Linked DNA regions of Homo sapiens. The protein of the gene in region 4 purifies or fractionates together with the protein of the main gene of each other region. This does not show direct contact. Each region holds a gene or a part of one and is shown on either strand. Other genes may lie near its edges. The genes, in order: KLHL36, CNIH4, CLPTM1 and SLC6A17.

What was found.
Region 1: the proteins of SLC6A17 (region 4) and KLHL36 purify together in Homo sapiens (affinity purification with mass spectrometry; one large-scale study listed by BioGRID and IntAct). This does not show direct contact.
Region 2: the proteins of SLC6A17 (region 4) and CNIH4 purify together in Homo sapiens (affinity purification with mass spectrometry; one large-scale study listed by BioGRID and IntAct). This does not show direct contact.
Region 3: the proteins of SLC6A17 (region 4) and CLPTM1 purify together in Homo sapiens (affinity purification with mass spectrometry; one large-scale study listed by BioGRID and IntAct). This does not show direct contact.

Annotation. Positions count from the first base shown.
Region 1 is NC_000016.10:84,650,955-84,655,010, reverse strand, and holds part of KLHL36 (kelch-like protein 36), read right to left. Parts: intron 1-4,056.
Region 2 is NC_000001.11:224,359,461-224,363,685, reverse strand, and holds part of CNIH4 (protein cornichon homolog 4), read right to left. Parts: intron 3,192-4,225; coding exon 3,123-3,191; intron 1-3,122. UniProt on the Homo sapiens protein: Involved in G protein-coupled receptors (GPCRs) trafficking from the endoplasmic reticulum to the cell surface; it promotes the exit of GPCRs from the early secretory pathway, likely through interaction with the COPII machinery.
Region 3 is NC_000019.10:44,975,417-44,979,641, reverse strand, and holds part of CLPTM1 (putative lipid scramblase CLPTM1), read right to left. Parts: intron 2,300-4,225; coding exon 2,182-2,299; intron 1-2,181. UniProt on the Homo sapiens protein: Involved in GABAergic but not glutamatergic transmission. Binds and traps GABAA receptors in the endoplasmic reticulum (ER).
Region 4 is NC_000001.11:110,191,825-110,196,049, reverse strand, and holds part of SLC6A17 (sodium-dependent neutral amino acid transporter SLC6A17), read right to left. Parts: intron 4,079-4,225; coding exon 3,837-4,078; intron 3,545-3,836; coding exon 3,352-3,544; intron 1,472-3,351; coding exon 1,279-1,471; intron 465-1,278; coding exon 305-464; intron 1-304. UniProt on the Homo sapiens protein: Synaptic vesicle transporter with apparent selectivity for neutral amino acids.

The DNA.
Region 1 (4,056 bases), on a different chromosome or scaffold from region 4:
TTAAATTTTTTCTCATTTTTAGAAACAGGGTCTTGCTCTGTTTCCCAGGCTGGCATGCAACAGTAGATCAGAGATCACTGCGGCCTGAAACTCCTAGGCTCAGCCGGGCGTGGTGGCTCATGCCTGGAATCCCAGTACTTTGGGAGGCCGAGGTGGGCAGGTCACCTGAGGTCAGGAGTTCGAGACCAGCCTGACCAACATGGTGAAACCCCGTCTCTAGTAAAAATACAAAATTAGCTGGTTGTGGTGGCGGGCGCCTGTCATCCTAGCTACTCAGGAGGCTGACGCAGGAGAATCACTTGCACTCCGGAGGCGGAGGTTGCAGTGAGCCACTGCACTCCAGCCTGGGCAACACGAACAAAACGCCATCTCAAAAACAAAACAAAACAAAACAAAACAAAACAAAACAAAACAAAACAAAACAAAACAAAACTAGTCTCAAGCAATCCCTCCACTTCAGCTTCCTTGGCAGCTGGGACTACAGGTGTGTGCCACCATATCCAGCTATTTTTTACTTTTATTTTTTGTAGAAATGGGGTCTCACTACATTGCCCAGGCTGGTCTTCAGCTCCTGAGTTCAAACGATCCTCCTGCCTCAGCCTCCCAATGTGCTGGGATTACAGGTATAAGCCACCGTGCTAGGCCTCAGCTTCTAATTATGCAGGAATGGTCAGTGCTTCTACAGACATTGACTGGAGGCCCCTCTTGGGTGTGAGCTGAAGGAAGGAAATTAAAAAGTACTACAGTGGCGGTGATCAAGTCATAGTACAGGCTTAGCGGCCTGAGAGACGCATATGAGGGCATGAGGCGGCTATCTGCCACCCGGGGACCCTGGCTGTCTCCACGCTGGTGAGGGTGCTGGCCCTACCATGCTTAGACGGAGATACACACAACCCCAGACTGCAGTGTCAAAAGGGAAAGAGCCCAGGGGGCAGGACTGGGGAAAGCCCCAGTGAACGGCTGCCGAGGGGAGACACCAGCTCCAGTGAGCTGGGGCAGGGGGCAAGAGCAGTGTTGTTTCCAAAACTGGGTTTCTGCTCTAAGTGGGCTGGAGTGATGCTGTACCCGGGTACAATCAGCTGCAATCTGCTTCTGGTGTTTTAGCACAGCTGCATAGACAACTTTCCAAAAACACAGGCACACGAGTTCCCTTTTTTTTTTTTTTTTTTTGGATACAGAGCCTCCCTCTGTTGCCCAGGCTGGAGTGCAGTGGCTCGATCTCGGCTCACTGCAACCTCCGCCTCCCAGGTTCAGGCGATTCTCCTGCCTCAGCCTCCTGAGTAGCTGGGACTACCGGCATGTACCACCATGCCCAGCTAATTTTGTCTTTTTAGTAGAGACAGGGTTTTGCCATTTTGGCCAGGCTGGTCTTAAACTCCTGACCTCAGGTGCCACCACTCCCGGCATATATACATATATCAGTAGAGACGGGGTTTCACCATGTTGGCCTCGAACTCCTGACTTCAAGTGATCCATCCACCTCAGCCTCCCAAAGTTCTAGGATTCCAGGCGTGAGCCACTGCGCCTGGCCTATTTCCCAATTATAAAGGGACATTGGTAACAGAGTTTCCGCATTTCAGGTAACTTAGAAGCTCCAATCCACAGCATTCTCTGATGATATGAGTCTTGTTCATTTCTTTATTTCCTATTTCAGTGCCTTAATCAGATGCAAGGCCAAGTAGAGGGAGAAACTCAGGTTGTCGGGGGCTTACACCTGGGAGGAGGCGGCAGGTACCAGGTATTAGACGTGGAAAAAGAATTTAGCATCAAAAAGGAACAACACTTTTTTTTTTTGAGACAGGGTCTCGCTCTGTCACTTAGGTTGGAGTACAGTGGTGCGATCATAGCTCACTGCAACCTCTACCTCCTGGGCTCAAGTGAGCCTCCCACCTCGGCCTCCTGAGGAGCTGGGACTACAGGTGTATGCCACCAGGCTCGGCTAATTTTTGTATCTTTTGTAGAGATGAGGTTTAGCCGTGTTGTCCAAGCTGGTCTCAAACTCCGAGCTTACGAGATCCTCCCGCCTCGGCCTCCCAGGGTGCTGGGATTACAGGCGTGAGCCACTGTGCCTGGCTGAGCAACACATCTTAGGGCAGACAGGTGAACAGACACTGTGGCCACACAGTGGGAAGACACCAACATGCTGAGAAAGCAAAACCTACCACTACCAACTACATGCAGCAACACGGGTGAGGCTCAGAGGCACAATGTTGCACAAAAGAAACCACACACAAGAGTACCCGACCTCGGATCCCGTTTAGACAAAGTTCAAAAGCAGATCAAACCACAGCGGTGGGGTTGGGACAGCGACTATCTTGAGTGTAACAACTGGGAGGGTTTGGTAGTATTCTGTTTTTTACCCATCTGGGTGCTGGCAACATAGGTGTGTTTAATGTCTAGAAATTAATGGGTACACTTTTTAAAAATAAAAAGTTAGAAACAGGCCAGTCATGGTGGCTCGCGCCTGTAATCCCAGCACTTTGGGAGGCCAAGGCTGGCGGGTCACGAGGTCAAGAGATCAAGACCATCCTGGCCAACATGGTGAAACCCCGTCTCTACTAAAAATACAAAAATTAGCTGGGCATGGTGGCATGCACCTGTATTCCCAGCTCCTCAGGAGGCTGAGGTGGGAGGCTCACTTGAGCCCAGGAGGTAGAGGCTGCAGTGAGCTATGATCGCACCACTGTACTCCAACCTAAGTGACAGAGCAAGACCCTGTCTCGAAAAAAAAAAAAAGTTAGAAACATCATCCAGTGATACAGAAGCCTAGTCCTAAGAGATTCAGTTCAGACAGAAACAAACTCAGGGTCCTGGCATTAATGGACAAAGACTTCCAGTGCTGTCAAACTTAGAAAGCAGCAGTGTCTCCCAAGCTAAGCTCCCAAACAAAGCCCTTGTGAGCGAGCGGCGAGACCTCTCTGGGTTTTCACAATCGATAAAGCTGGGCTTGGCAGGAACCTTCTTGGGGAACTCACGTGAGAACAGGAGGTCATATCTCAAGAGAGCCAACCTCTCTTGAAAATGACAGCCAGTTTTTCTTTTAGAATCTGTAGAATCTCTTTCCCCCTTTTTCTCAACTCTATAGGCTGCTGCCAGCTCCCTTCATCTAAAGAAGTGTTTCTGTATCTTTTTTCATTATTGCCCCACAAGAAGGCTTTTAAGATTTTTTTCCCTAATAGCCTCCCCAGCAAAATCTTAACATCACAGATGCACTGTATGTCTGCTCATGTACTGTATGTATAATTGTGTCTTATGCATAAAAGGAGTAAAATTCCTTCCACCCTCCCGAGAACCAATTTTCTCCCACTTCAGGGCAATATCATACTCATTGAGAATCCATGATCTGAGGTAACCATAAGATTTAATCTCCAAAAGGGATACCTCTAAAGAACAGAGGGCATTACGAATATTTATAACGGGGAAACAGGTTACCAGGAACCTCATACCAATGGCTCCCCCACTCTTTACCAACAGCAGCTGTGGGGACAGGAGTTTGTGGAAAGTATAGCAGCCGGGTCTGGCTCTTGGATTTTAATGTGGCTGGTGGGAACAGGCTACATATTTCTAATTAGAACTCCCCCAGTAGCCTGGCTCTGGGGAACTTGCCCTCACTTGCTCTTAGGTCGCAGGGAATCATGACCAGGGAAGACGACTCCAGGCCCTTGGGGTCCGGGTACACGGTGTGTTGCCCTCACCCTAAGGTAGAAGGCTGGGTTCTCAATGGACCTGTCCTTGGAGTTTTTGAGCCCCCAAGCAGGCATGGGAATCCCAGTTTTCTTCCTGTCCCATCCACCTCCTTGGGTTAACGAATGAGTCAAGTTGTCACAAAAAGAAAGCTCCGGAATGTCACATGGAAAAATGAAGACATCTGGCCATAGCGTCTCTACCATCCCTCATACTTCCCACTGTCTGATTTTATGACAATTTCTGCTCCTTGCCCGTTTCCACCTTTACTTGTCATTAAGGAGACTGACAACACCAATGACAAAAAAATCAGTCTGTGATTAGAAATGAGTGAATCAGAAAAAGGATCACACTTCTTAGGCAATTTGCATA
Region 2 (4,225 bases), about 110 Mb from region 4:
GAACTGGATGGAAACAGATATAATATTGGAAGCAGAAGAAAATTTCAAAAATACTATAATCAGCCAGGCATGGTGGTGCACATCTGCAGTCCCAGCTACTTGGGACACTAAGGCGGGAGGATTGCTTGAGCCTAGAAATTCAAGGCTGCAATGAAATATGATTGTGCCACTGTACTTCAGCCTGGATGAGAGAAAAAGACCCTATCTTTAATAAAAAATAGAAAAATACTATAATCAGTATTCGCAGAGAACTAGGAGTCAAACATGAACCAAGAGAATAAAAACCTCTTAAAAATCATCATTTTAGCATAAATGCTACATTTGTTAGAAAATTCAAAAGAAGGCTGGGTGCAGTGGCTCATGCCTGTAATCCCAGCACTTTGGGAGGCCGAGGAGAGCAGATCACCTGATGTCAGGAGTCGGAGACCAGCCTGGCCAACGTGGCGAGACTTCATCTCTATTAAAAATACAAAAATTAGCCAGCATGGTGGCACACCCCTGTAATCCCAGCTACTCAGGAGGCTGAGGCACAAGAATTGTTTAAACCCAGGAGTTGGAGGTGTCAGTGAGCCAAGATAGCACCACTGCACTCCAGCCTAGACAACAAGTGCAAAACTCCATCTCAAAAAGAAAGAAAAAAGAAAAAAAGAAAATTCAGAAGAAAAAGCAAGGGAAATAATAAAAACAGCAGAAAAAAAATCAAAGAGATAAAACTAAGAAAAAGGAAAAATTGGCAGATCAATCCAGCAGATCAATTGTCTAGTTAGTGGATGTTGTAGGAAGAGAAGGAGGGAAAAAAGATGGGGAAGAAACATCAAAGAAAGAATACAAGAAAATTTCCCATATTGAAAGAGCCTATCAGATGTCCAAAACAAACAAGAAAGGCCTTTTAAAAAGTACACAGAGGGCCAGGCACAGTGGCTCATGCCTGTAATCCCAGCACTTTGGGCAGATTACGAGGTCAGGAGATCAAGACCATCCTGGCTAACATGGTGAAACCCTGTCTCTATTAAAAATACAAAAACAAAATTAGCCAGGCATGGTGGCAGGCGCCTGTAGTCCCAGCTACTCGGGAGGCTGAAGCGGGAGAATGGCGTGAACCGGGGAGGTAGAGCTTGCAGTGAGCTGAGATCACGCCACTGCAATCTAGTCTGGGCCACAGAGCAAGACTCCGTCTCAAAAAAAAAAAAAAAAAAAAGTACACAGCGATACAGCACTGTAAAATTTCAAAACACCAAGGATAAAGATTCTAAAACTTTCCCATAGAGGACAGGAAAAGAGAGAAAGAGAGAGAGAGAGAGAGAATGAGAATGAGAATCATATAGAATAGATGAGAAATTCTTTGGGAGGCTGAGGCGGGCAGATCATGAGGTCAGGAGATTGAGACCATCCTGGCTAACACGGTGAAACCCCGTCTCCACTAAAAAATACAAAAAAATTAGCCGGGCGTGGTGGTGGGCGCCTGTAGTCCCAGTTACTTGGGAGGCTGAGGCAGGAGAATAGCATGAACCCGGGAGGCAGAGCTTGCAGTGAGCCAAGATCGCACCACTGCACTCCAGCTTAGGCAACAGAGTGAGACTCCGTCTCAAAAAAAAAAAAATGGCATGGTACTTCCCAACTTGAACCACTGGAAGTCAGAAGACCACCAAGGGGTGTCTTTAAAATTCTGAAAGAAAAATCTTTTCCAGCCTAGAACCCTGTACTCTGACAACTATGAATCAAGTGTAAAGATAAGACATTTTCAAACATGGAAGGCCTCAAAATTTAATTGGCAGTTACCTTATCTCAAGAAGCTACATGAGGCTGGGCGCAGTGGCTCACAACTGTAATCCTAACACTTTGGGAGGCCAAAGAGGGCAGATCACTTGAGCCTAGGAATTTCAGACCAGCCTGGGCAACATAGTGAAACCCTGTCTCTACAAAAAAATTTTAAAAATCAGCCAGGTATGGTGGCACACACCTGTAGTCCCACCTACATGGGAGGCTGAGGTGGAAGGATCGCTTGAGCCTAGGAGGTCAAGGCTGCAGTGAGCCATGATCGCATCACTGCACTCCAGCCTGGGCAACAGAGTGAGACTCTGCCTCAAACAATCAAACAAAATTTATGAAAATTTTTAAAATATGGAGCTTAGGCCAGGCATGGTGGCTGACACCTGTAATCCCAGCACTTTGCCAAGACAGCAGGATTGCTTAAGGCCAGGAGTTCAAAGCCAGTCTAGATCACATAGCAAGACCCAGTCTACAAAAAAATTTAAAAATTAGCCAGGTGGCTGGGCACGGTGGCTCACACCTATAATCCTAACACTTTGGGAGGCTGAGGCAGGCGAATCACTTGAGGTCAGGAGTTTGAAACCAGCCTGGCCAACATGGTGAAACCCCATCTCTATGAAAAATACAAAAAAAATTAGCCAGGTGTGGTGGCAGTGCCTGTAATCCCAGCTACTTGGGAGGCTGAGGCAGGAGAAACGCTTGAACCTGGGAGGCAGAGGCTGCAGTGAGTCCAGATCACACCACTGCACTCCGGCCTGGGTGACAGAGTGAGACTCCATCTCAAAAAAAAAAAAAAAAAAATTAGCCAGGCATGGTGGCATGCGCCTGTAGTCCCAGCTACTCAGAAGGCCGAGGCAGATCACTTGAGCCTAGGAATTCAAGAATAGCCTGATCACCACTGCAAGAAACCTTCTCTCTCAATAAATAAATAAATAAATAAAGAGTCATACATTAAAAAAAAATTATTTTCTCGGTAAACTACACAAGAAAGGTCTTCTTTCATTCAACCAAAGACAGACTTGAGCTTTTTTCCGTGAGTGGGAGGAGGGAGTTCCAACGCAGAAGACAAAAACAATTACCCTCATGATGAACATTTCCCTACTCTGAGTAAAGATGCTATCCGCTGTAAACAAGAGACAAGCAACATATAAAGAAACAAAATTTCAAGTCAGATCTTCTAGCATAATTTCATGATCTAAAATATTGTAAAACACAGCAGTTCCATCAAATTTCCAATGAATAAGAGACAACATGTACTCTAAAATCAAAAATACATCTGTTATCTATAATAATCTTAAGTATGGAAAATGACCTGGCTTCAATGCCAGAGAATGAGCAAAGAAATGTCTTACCTTGTTTAATTTTGAGCAACATGATCTAGCATTAATGTAATCACATTCTAAATCAGACAATGTAATTATCTGATGATCAAGATAAGGAATTATTATATTTCTTTTATAATAACTAAGTATTTAAGTTTCAGAAAGCAATCCCAGTTACAAGGCAGAATTAGATTTGACTTGAAAAAAATGAGTTGTTTCCTAAAGTTTGCTCATTAGACAACTCAATTTTCCCATTCATGTTCCTTCAACAAATTATTTTACAAAATAATCCTATTTTGCTCAAATCTAATCTGACCCAACCAGAACATTTAGTTTGAGTTCTTCAAATGTAAAACAATGGCTATTAAAAAAAAAAAAATGGGAAATATCCCAGCACTTTGGGAAGCTGAGGCAGGAGGATCGCCTGAAGCAGGAGTTCAAGATCAGCATAGGCAACATAGCAAGCCTCCATCTCTTTCACCCAGGCTGTAGTGCAGTGGCGCAATTCCAACGCACTGCTACCCCTGCCTCCTGGGTTCAAGCAATTCTTGTGCCTCAGCCTTCCAAGTAGCTGGAACTATAGGTGCGCGCCACCACCACACCCAGCTAATTTTTTGTATTTTTAGTAGAGACGGGGTTTCACTATGTTAGCCAGGCTGGTCTCGAACTCCTGGCTTCAAGTGATTCACTCACCTCACCCCCATCTCTACAAATTTTTTCTTTTTTTTTCATTAGCCGGGCATGAGCACCTGTAATGCTAGCTATTAGTAGCAGTACTGCTAAGGTGAGGCAGCAAAATGCCTAGAGCCCAGGATTCACGTTACACTGAGCTATAATCACACCAGTGCGCTCCAGTCTGAGCAGCAGATTTGGTAGGCACTTGTAGTCTCAGTTACTTGAGAGGCTGAGGCAGGAGAATCGCTTGAACCCAGGAGATGGAGGCAGCAGTAAGCCAAGATTGCGCCACTGCACTCCAGCCTGGGTGACAGTGAGACTCTGTCTCAAAAATAAACATGAAAATAAAATAAAGTCAAACTCATCACTTTCTCCACAGATTGATCTTCCTCCAATTTGTTTTATTTCTGTTACTGACACAAGTATCACTTGCCCAGGATCAAAATATGGAAAGCTAT
Region 3 (4,225 bases), on a different chromosome or scaffold from region 4:
CCCACATAGAGTCAACTTTTCATTTCATCCAGTATAGGTGATAAAAAAAAATTACCATCCTTTAGGATATTTTTGTACTAAAAGAAGTAGGTAAGACCTAACTCATACAAATAGAATTCTGTCTGTTGCTGCGCCACCCAAAACCAGCCAGATGGATCTTAACCAAATCCACAGGGAATGTCTGGAATAGTCCTCAATAAAGTGAAAGCTAGGTGGAGTACACAGAACTCCCGTTAGAAGAATGGGGGGCTTTCTGAGGAAGCCATTCTCCAGCTCCGCTCAAACAGGTACAGCAAGAGATTTCTACGGCTGCCCATCAGGAGACAGAGGACTCAGGGAAAAAGCTCACAGAGAACCAAGCAAGGCTGGGTGTGGCAGCTCACACCTGTAATCCCAGCACTTTGGGAGGCCGAGGCAGACGATCACTTGAGGTCAGGAGTTTGAGACCAGCCTGGCCAACATGGCGAAACCCCGTCTCTACTAAAAATACAAAAACTAGCCGGGCGTAGTGGCGTGTGCCTGTAGTCCCAGCTATTTTGGAGGCTAAGGTGGGAGAATCGCTTGAACTTGGGAGGTGGAAATTGTGGTGAGCTGAGATAGTCCACTGCACTCCAGCCTGGGCGACATAGTGAGACCCTGTCTCAAAAAAAAAAAAAAAAAGAGCCAGGCAAGCAGAAAGATGACAACAATTATTAACTTCTCGAAAACAAGAGGACGGACAATGCTATGGTTTGAATGTTTGTCCTGGCCAAAACTCATGCTGATTCTCCCACCTCAGCCTCCCAAGTAGCTGGGACTACTGATGTACTCTAGTACTCCCCACTCCCAGTGAAACTTAATCCCCAATGTGCCAGTACTGAGAGATGAGGCTTTTAAGAGGTGACTGGGTCATGAGGACCCTCCCCTCAGGAACTGATTAACCCATTCATGGATTAGTGGTTTAATGGATTAATGAGTTATCATGGGAGTAGAAGTGGTAGTCTTATTTTTTATTACTATTGTTTTTTCAGAGACGTGGACTTGCTCTGTCGCCCAGGCTGGAAAGCTGTAGTGCAATCACAGCTCACTGCATCCTTGACCTCCCAGGTTCAAGCGATCCTCCCACCTCAGCCTCCCATGTAGCTGGAACCACAGGTGCTCACCACCATACCTGGCTATTAATTTTTGTAGCAACGAAGTCTCATTATGTTGCCCACACTGTTCTTTGAATTTTATCTATTTTTTTTTTTTTTGAGACGGAGACGGAGTCTTGCTGTGTCACCAGGCTGGAGTGCAATGGCGTGATCTCAGCTCAATGCAACCTCCGCCTCCTGGATTCAAGCGATTCTCCTGCCTCAGCCTCCCAAGTAGCTGGGACTACAGGAGCATGCTACTACACCCAGCTAATTTTTGTATTTTTAGTAGAGACGGGGTTTCACCGTGTTGGCCAGGATGGTCTCTATCTCTTGACCTTGTGATTCACCCGCCTCGGCCTCCCAAAGTCCTGGGATTACAGGCGTGAGCCACTGTGCCCGGCCTCTATCTATCTTTTTGAGACAGGTTCTCGGTCTGTCACCCAGGCTGGAGTGCAGTGGTGTGATTCTGGCTCACTGCAACCTCCACCTCCTGGGCTCAAGCGATCCTCCCACCTCAGCCTCCTGAGCAGCTGGGACTACAGGCACACGCCCAGCTAGTTTTTGTGTCTTTTTTGGTAGAGACAGGGTTTTGTCATGTTTCCCAGGCTGGTCTCAAACTCCTGGGCTCAAGCAATCTGCCCACCTTGTCTCCCAAAGTGCTAGGATTACAGGCATGAACCACTGCACCCAGCCCACAAATTATTTTTGAGTGTCTACTTCTATCAGGCCCCTACTGTGCAAAAGTCAACCCTGGCCCTTCCCCCTTGGTGAAGGACGTCTCCTCCTCTCCAAGAGTCCCTGTCTCCAGCTGCTTTTTCTGGCCAATTTCTCTCTGGTCCCTGAGCCTCCGTGGGTCTCCCTTCCTCCGTGGGTATCCCTGCTTAGTGTCCACAGGGCTCTTTCAGGCTGGGTGGGGCTTGAGCCTGCCCTGCCAATCCCACCCTCTTTGAGCACAGGCTTCCTGCCTGCCCTCCTGGACTTGGGATTTGTCCGCCACATTAGCCTGGGGGCTCCCAGGATGCTGGCCTCCTGGACAGTGGGTCCTGGCTGCAGGGGAGCGACTTACTCCGGGACATGTGGACTGTGGCAAGCCGGCGGTACAGGGCCTTCTGCCGGGGGTCTGGGTGGAAGCCACTCTTGGTGAAGTAAACGTGGATGTAGATGGAGCCGTTCTGCTGGACGCTCTGCAAAAGACGGAAGGTCAGGTGGGCAGGCTGGGCAACTGGGGTGAGGGAAACGTTAAAGCCCTGCCTGGCACCCATCTGCAGCAGTTTCCTCCCCCTCAACTCTCTGGCCATTTACTGAGTACTCAGGGTGGGGCATGTAGCTGGGTGGCAGAGAGGTAAATGCTGGAGTCAGACAGACTCAGACGCCCGCTCTACCTGCCATGGCCGTGTGAGCTCAGCTTCTCTCTGAGCCTCAGGGCCCCACCTAGAGGATGCGAAGTTCCCACAGCACTGACCCGAGGGCACCACTGCAGGGACTACCTGGAGCACTGGCACACAGCTCAGTCAACGAGCTCTCGTTAAGCTCACTCAACAGGAAGAAGCAGCTGACCGACATGGAGCTCCTACTATGGGCCAGACCCTGCCCTGGGCACTTCAGACAACAGCTTCCTAATCTAACGAGTTAACACACATATAACATGTCAACCTTATGCAATGGGTCATGTTACCACCCCATTTTGCAGATGAGGCAAACGGGGCTCATGCCAAGGGGTCACATAGTGTGTGGCAAGTACGCAGATGGAAACCCAGTCTGTGGGCTCCTGGGTGCTACTCCCTGCTACCTCCAGCTGGCCCCTCTCTGCCCAAGTCTTCCTCATTATCTCATCAAGTCTCCTTGCCTCCCAGGGAAGGGGGACTATTCTCACTTGATCCAGATGAGGAAACTGAGGCTTCAAGAAGGGAGGCAAGTTGTCCAGGGGCACTGGGTGGAGACAAAGGCGAGCACTGAACCTCTCTGATCCTTGTGCAGAGCTCGAATTCAGTTGGCCACATTGTGTTCTCCTCACTCTCCCTATCTTTTTTAGAGATGGGGTCTTCCTGTGTTGCCCAGGCTGGAGTGCACTGGCTATTTGCAGTTGCGATCATGGCACACTACAGTCTTAAACTCCTGGGCTCTGGCCATTCTCCCACCTCAGCCTCCTGAGTAGCTGTGCCTACAGGCACATGCCACTGTGCCCAGCTCTCCTGCCTTTTAAGTCCACTTGGACCCCACCCTGAAGCTTCGACTTAGATCCAAGCCCTTGGAAGCAGATCCCCCTGCTGGGCCTGCCAGGCCCTGGTCCTTCCTTGGATCTCGTGGCAAGGCCTGGGGGCTGGGCTTGAGGTCTCTGTGGGAGTCACCTCTCAGTGCAGGTCAGAAAGTCCAGCCAGGTGGGGTGGTTCATGCCTGTAATTCCAGCACTTTGAGAGGCTGAGGTGAGAGGATCGCTTGAGCAGAGGAGTTTGAGACCAGCCTGGGAAACATGTTGAGACCCCATCTCTACAAAAAATTAGCTGGGCATGGTGGTGCATGCCTGTTGTCCCAGCTACTTGGGAGGCTGAGGTGAAAAGATTGCTTGAGCCCAGGAGGTTGAGGCTGCAGTGAGCTGTAATTGCACCACTGCACTTCAGCCTAGGCAACAGAGCAAGACCCCATCTCAAAAAGAAAAGAATGATGGCTGGACGCGGTGTCTCACGCCTGTAATCCCAGCACTTTGGGAGACCAAGGTAGGTGGATCACTTGAGGTCAGGAGTTCAAGGCCAACCTGGCCAACATAGTGAAACCTTGTCTCTACTAAAAAATAAAAAAATTAGCTGGGTGTGATCATGTGTGCCTTAGTCCCAGCTACTCAGGAGGCTGGCACATGAGAATCGCTTGAACCTGGGAGGTGAAGTTGCAGTGAGCCAAGGTTGCGCCACTGCCCTCCAGACTGGGTGACAGAGCGAGACGCTGTCTCAAAAAAAAACAAAAAACAAAAAAAAAAACCAGAATGACTGTGTCCACATTCTGCTTCTAGCTACCCAGACAGAAATAGAACAGAAATGTGCCCTCCACCCCAAAGCTGAGAAGGCCTGCTGGGGAGAAAGGAATGAGGGCAGCTGTCTTGGACTCAGCCGAAGAAG
Region 4 (4,225 bases):
CCACTAAGCCCTTCACAAAAACTTAACAGAGTTCTGAAGAGTTGGTACCCAGGAAAGGTGCTGTGGTAATTTAAGGATGATGCCAGGACCTGCACCCAGGACACCCAGTCCTCAGACTGGCTCTGTTTCTCCCTGGACAAGTGGCCTTAGGCAGCCATGTCCTTGCACTACACCTCAGTTTCCCTAAATGATCCGTAAGGGCACTTTCAGCTCTGCCATTGTGACTCTATGATCTGCCTCTCCAGGGAGTCATGATAGGACAGACCCCTCCTCCCATCCCACCTTTCCCCCATGTTCCTCTTACTTCTTGGTTCCATAAATCCAGGCCACAGCGATGTTCTCAAGGATGACGATGAGAGTGAGTGGCAGGGTGGCCGAGTAGTCATCGAACATGGTGACAAAGTAGTTTCCGGAGCGCTGGACGAACAACAGCCCCACGAGGAATGCAAAGACACAGCAGCCCACTACAGAGAGCCGGGAGGCCGGTTTGGGGGCAAAGGTGCAGGGTGGGCAGGGCCCTGGGGGTCTCGGGGGCACCCAGGCCCCTCCCATCACATCCCTCCCCAAAGCATGCCTGCAGCCCTCCTGCCAGCAGGCTCAGTCCTGCACGAGGGATCCAGATGCTCAGGTTCTGAGCCCCGCTCTACTAGTCGGGGAGCACCTGAGGAAGGCGTTGTGTCTAACTTTCATCCCATGCCTCTGCCCCAGCACAGGGCCTGGCCCGTGGCAGGTGCGCTACTTAATTGCTGTATTTAACTTAAATGATTCATCTGATTGTTACCAGTCTTTTTCTCCACCTCAGTTTCCCCACTTGAGAACAGAAAGATACCCCGCTTTAGGGATGCAGATGAGAGGTATCCCTCTATGGGCCCTAGATCAACGCAGCAAACCCCGAAGGGAACTGTGGACACAGCCCGGGACTGGAGTGACAAAGATGGAACAGGGCGCAAGGCCAGTGAGTGCCCCTGCCCAAGACGACTCAGCACCCACTTCCCAAGACGACTCAGCAGGCCCTTGGGGAGAGGGGCAAGTGAACTAACAAAGGGGCCTAGATGCAGGCCTCCCGGCTCATGTTTGCTCCAGATTTCCAAGTAGCTTTCTCTTCCTGGCTTGTGAGTGCTAATCACTGAGTGGCACAGCCAGGCTCCAGCTGTGTCCCAGTGTGGGGTGGAGCCTTCTGGGTGTGGGGTCATGAAGGACCCAGTCAGAAGCCAGAACGGAATTGTTGTCCACAAGGGCAGCCTGCAGAGCCTGGGCATGGGGGCAGGGAGGAGTTACCTGTGAACATCTCCTTGGGCACCTTGAAGGTGTCGATGATGGGCGTGGTGATGCCTGCCATGGTCCCGATCATGCTGCCCAGGCCCAGGTTGATAAGCATCAAGAAGAACATGACGGACCAGAACGGGGAGGCGGGGAAGTGCGTCATGGCCTCAGTGAAGGCGATGAAGGCCAGGCCTGTGCCCTGCACGGACTGAAGGTGGGGTGGAAAGCAGGGCCTGTGAGGTCACCCCTCCCTGGGGAGCCCACTGCTTCCTTCCCTCTGCCCTTCAAACTTTTGGAATAACTATTCCCTCTTTCACAGGGGTTCCCACCTCCACCTAAATCCTGTTGATTTTGGCCAGTGGGTCTCGAACTTTAGCAGGCATTGGAATCCCCTAGACGTAGCTCAAAAACACCAACTTGGGAGTTCACCTGTGGGACCTGGAATCTACGGGTTGTACCAGGAGCTTAGGTGATTCAAGTGAAGATGCTCATGTTTAGAAATACACCCAGCTCAGGACCCTGCTCCTCTAAGATGTCTTTCCTGATTGCTCCAGCCACACTGTGGCCGCTCCCAGCTCAGAACTTCTGAACTGCAGATCTTCATGCAGTGGTCTCAGCCTCGGCTCTCAATGGAAGCACACCGGAGCCTTTAGAAACACCGACACCTGGGTCTCACCCCACGGACAATGACTGGATTGGTCTGGGGTGAAGCTGGGTGTCAGAGTTTTTTTTTAAAACAAACAAAAATACCCCAGGAACTCTAATGGGTAGCCAAGGTAGAGAATCACTGCTTTAATGCTTGGGCCATGCTTGTGGGTCAGGTGACCACACACTGCCCCCTGTCACTTACACGTTGCCCTGTAATGTTCAGTGATTGTAAGGGAACATTTCTTCCCCACTAAGTGAGTGTATAATCTTGTCATTTGAATGCTATCGGAGTTGTATTGTATGAAAACACTGCTATAAACCTAGTTTAATTCAGAGAACCAGGCCATGCCCATGAGAACTGAGCAGGGTTTCAGAGAATGTGAAAAGGGGAGGTCCTTTATGCTGCCAGTTACCTGGGGAAGAAACCAGGGCAGTGGGCCCGAGATTGGGCTCTTTTGCTCTTGATCCGCAGGGAAAGGGTTGGGGTGTAGGATGCAGCTCCCTCAGCATTAGGATGGTACCATCCAATGGAGCTGACTTTTAACATAGAGCCCAGGGAAAGCACCCCCTTCCCCAGTCCCATGAAGGACAGGGTTGACCCAGGCTGATGGGAGCTGGCTCCGCCCCATGTGAGCCTTGGCTCCAGCCTGGTTCCCAAGATGCTGTGGGTATGTCCCTTTCCTGTTACCCCTTCTAACAGAACAGTCATTTTGAAAGTGTCCAGCTATGTAAGTATAAATAGAAGCAAGGTGTCCTAACATGGGCCTGAGCACTGAGGAGGAGTCAGCACCCCCAGCACCACCCTAAAGTCTAAGAGTCATCATGGCAGTGAGATTGGAATGGGGACAGGTTGGGGAGGGGCAGAAGCATCAAGAGGTGATCCTGAGCATGGGCTCTGGACCCAACTAACTGGATTTGGACCCAACTAACTGCCTCTCTGACTTACTAGTTATGAGACCTTGATCAAGCCCCCCATCTCATAGGCTACTCATCTGTAAGGTAGGGAACAATATGAATACTCAACTCATAGAGCTGTCTTGAGCGTCAAAAGAGATAGACAGCAACGGGCAAACACTAACTTCAACACTTCTTTGATGCACACCATGTCAAGGCACTGTTCTGAGTATATTACCTGTGGCAGTGACTGATGCACGAGAAGCCCACTCAGTAAATGGAAACATCGTCCCATACACTTACTGTGACTTCTGAGAGGTGTGTGTCTGCCCTACTTCTTGTCTAGGCTCAAGCCTACCTCTGGGCAGGGACTTTGGCCAATACCTTTCTTCCCTTTCACTCCCTCTGGACACACAGCAGATCCTTGCTTACCAAGTAAACTAATGACTACCTGTCAGCATCCTGAGGCCTGAGCCCAAGCTCCCGCCGGCCACAGCTGCTCTCTGGGTTCCTGCCTGTCCTGGGAAGGGCAGCCTGTCCCCGCACCTTGTCCAGCTCGTCCTCCAGAAGGCAGGGGTCAAGGCCCAGGGCTGAGAACTGGTCCTCCTTCACGGTCATGATGACATTGTACATCTCCATGTAGTCCTTTGTGGTCAGGTGGGAGAAGTTGACGTGGGGTGGGATGAGGTCCCGGCTCAGGACGTTGGTGTTAAGGTACCCTAGGATTTTCTCAGCATTCCTGCAGCACAAAACCGAGAGGACCAGGTAAGAAGGCAGGGGTGGGCAATGGGTGAGATCCTGGAGGCTCTTCCCAGGCACCCAGGTGGGAACCTCATGGGTCACTGACAGAGGCATCTCTGAGCTTGTCCCTGTGGCCCGGAGCTGGGGACAGAGAGTGCTCCTCTGATCTCCATTCCTCAGTCTGAGTGGAGGGGACCTCTCTCCCCATGCACACCTGCGCCCCCACCCCTGCCCACTCCCAGGTAAGGTAGACAGGGAGAAGGAGGGACAGGAGGAGAGATGCCACCTACTCGACCACACACTTCTCATTCATGATGTTGGCCTTGAAGCCCAGCACAGCAAACACCACGAGGGTGGCCAACACTGACGTGAAGAAGTTGATGAAGGACACCAGGGCGGCATCGAAGTGGCAGTTGTTGTCCTGCTTATTGTAGCTGGAGAAGGCAATGACACCACCAAAGCCCAGGCCCAAGGCAAAGAAGACCTGGGTAGCTGCCTCCCGCCACACCTGGGGGTCCAGCATCTTGTCCAGCTATGGCAGAAGACCAAGGCAGGAGGAAGAAAAGAGACACAGAGGGGATGGTTTTATTCATGTGCACACCCCCTTTCTCAGCCTCAACAGAGTTCAGAGGCAGCAGCCCATAGTGGTAAGAAGCTGTGTGAACTTGGGCAATTTCCC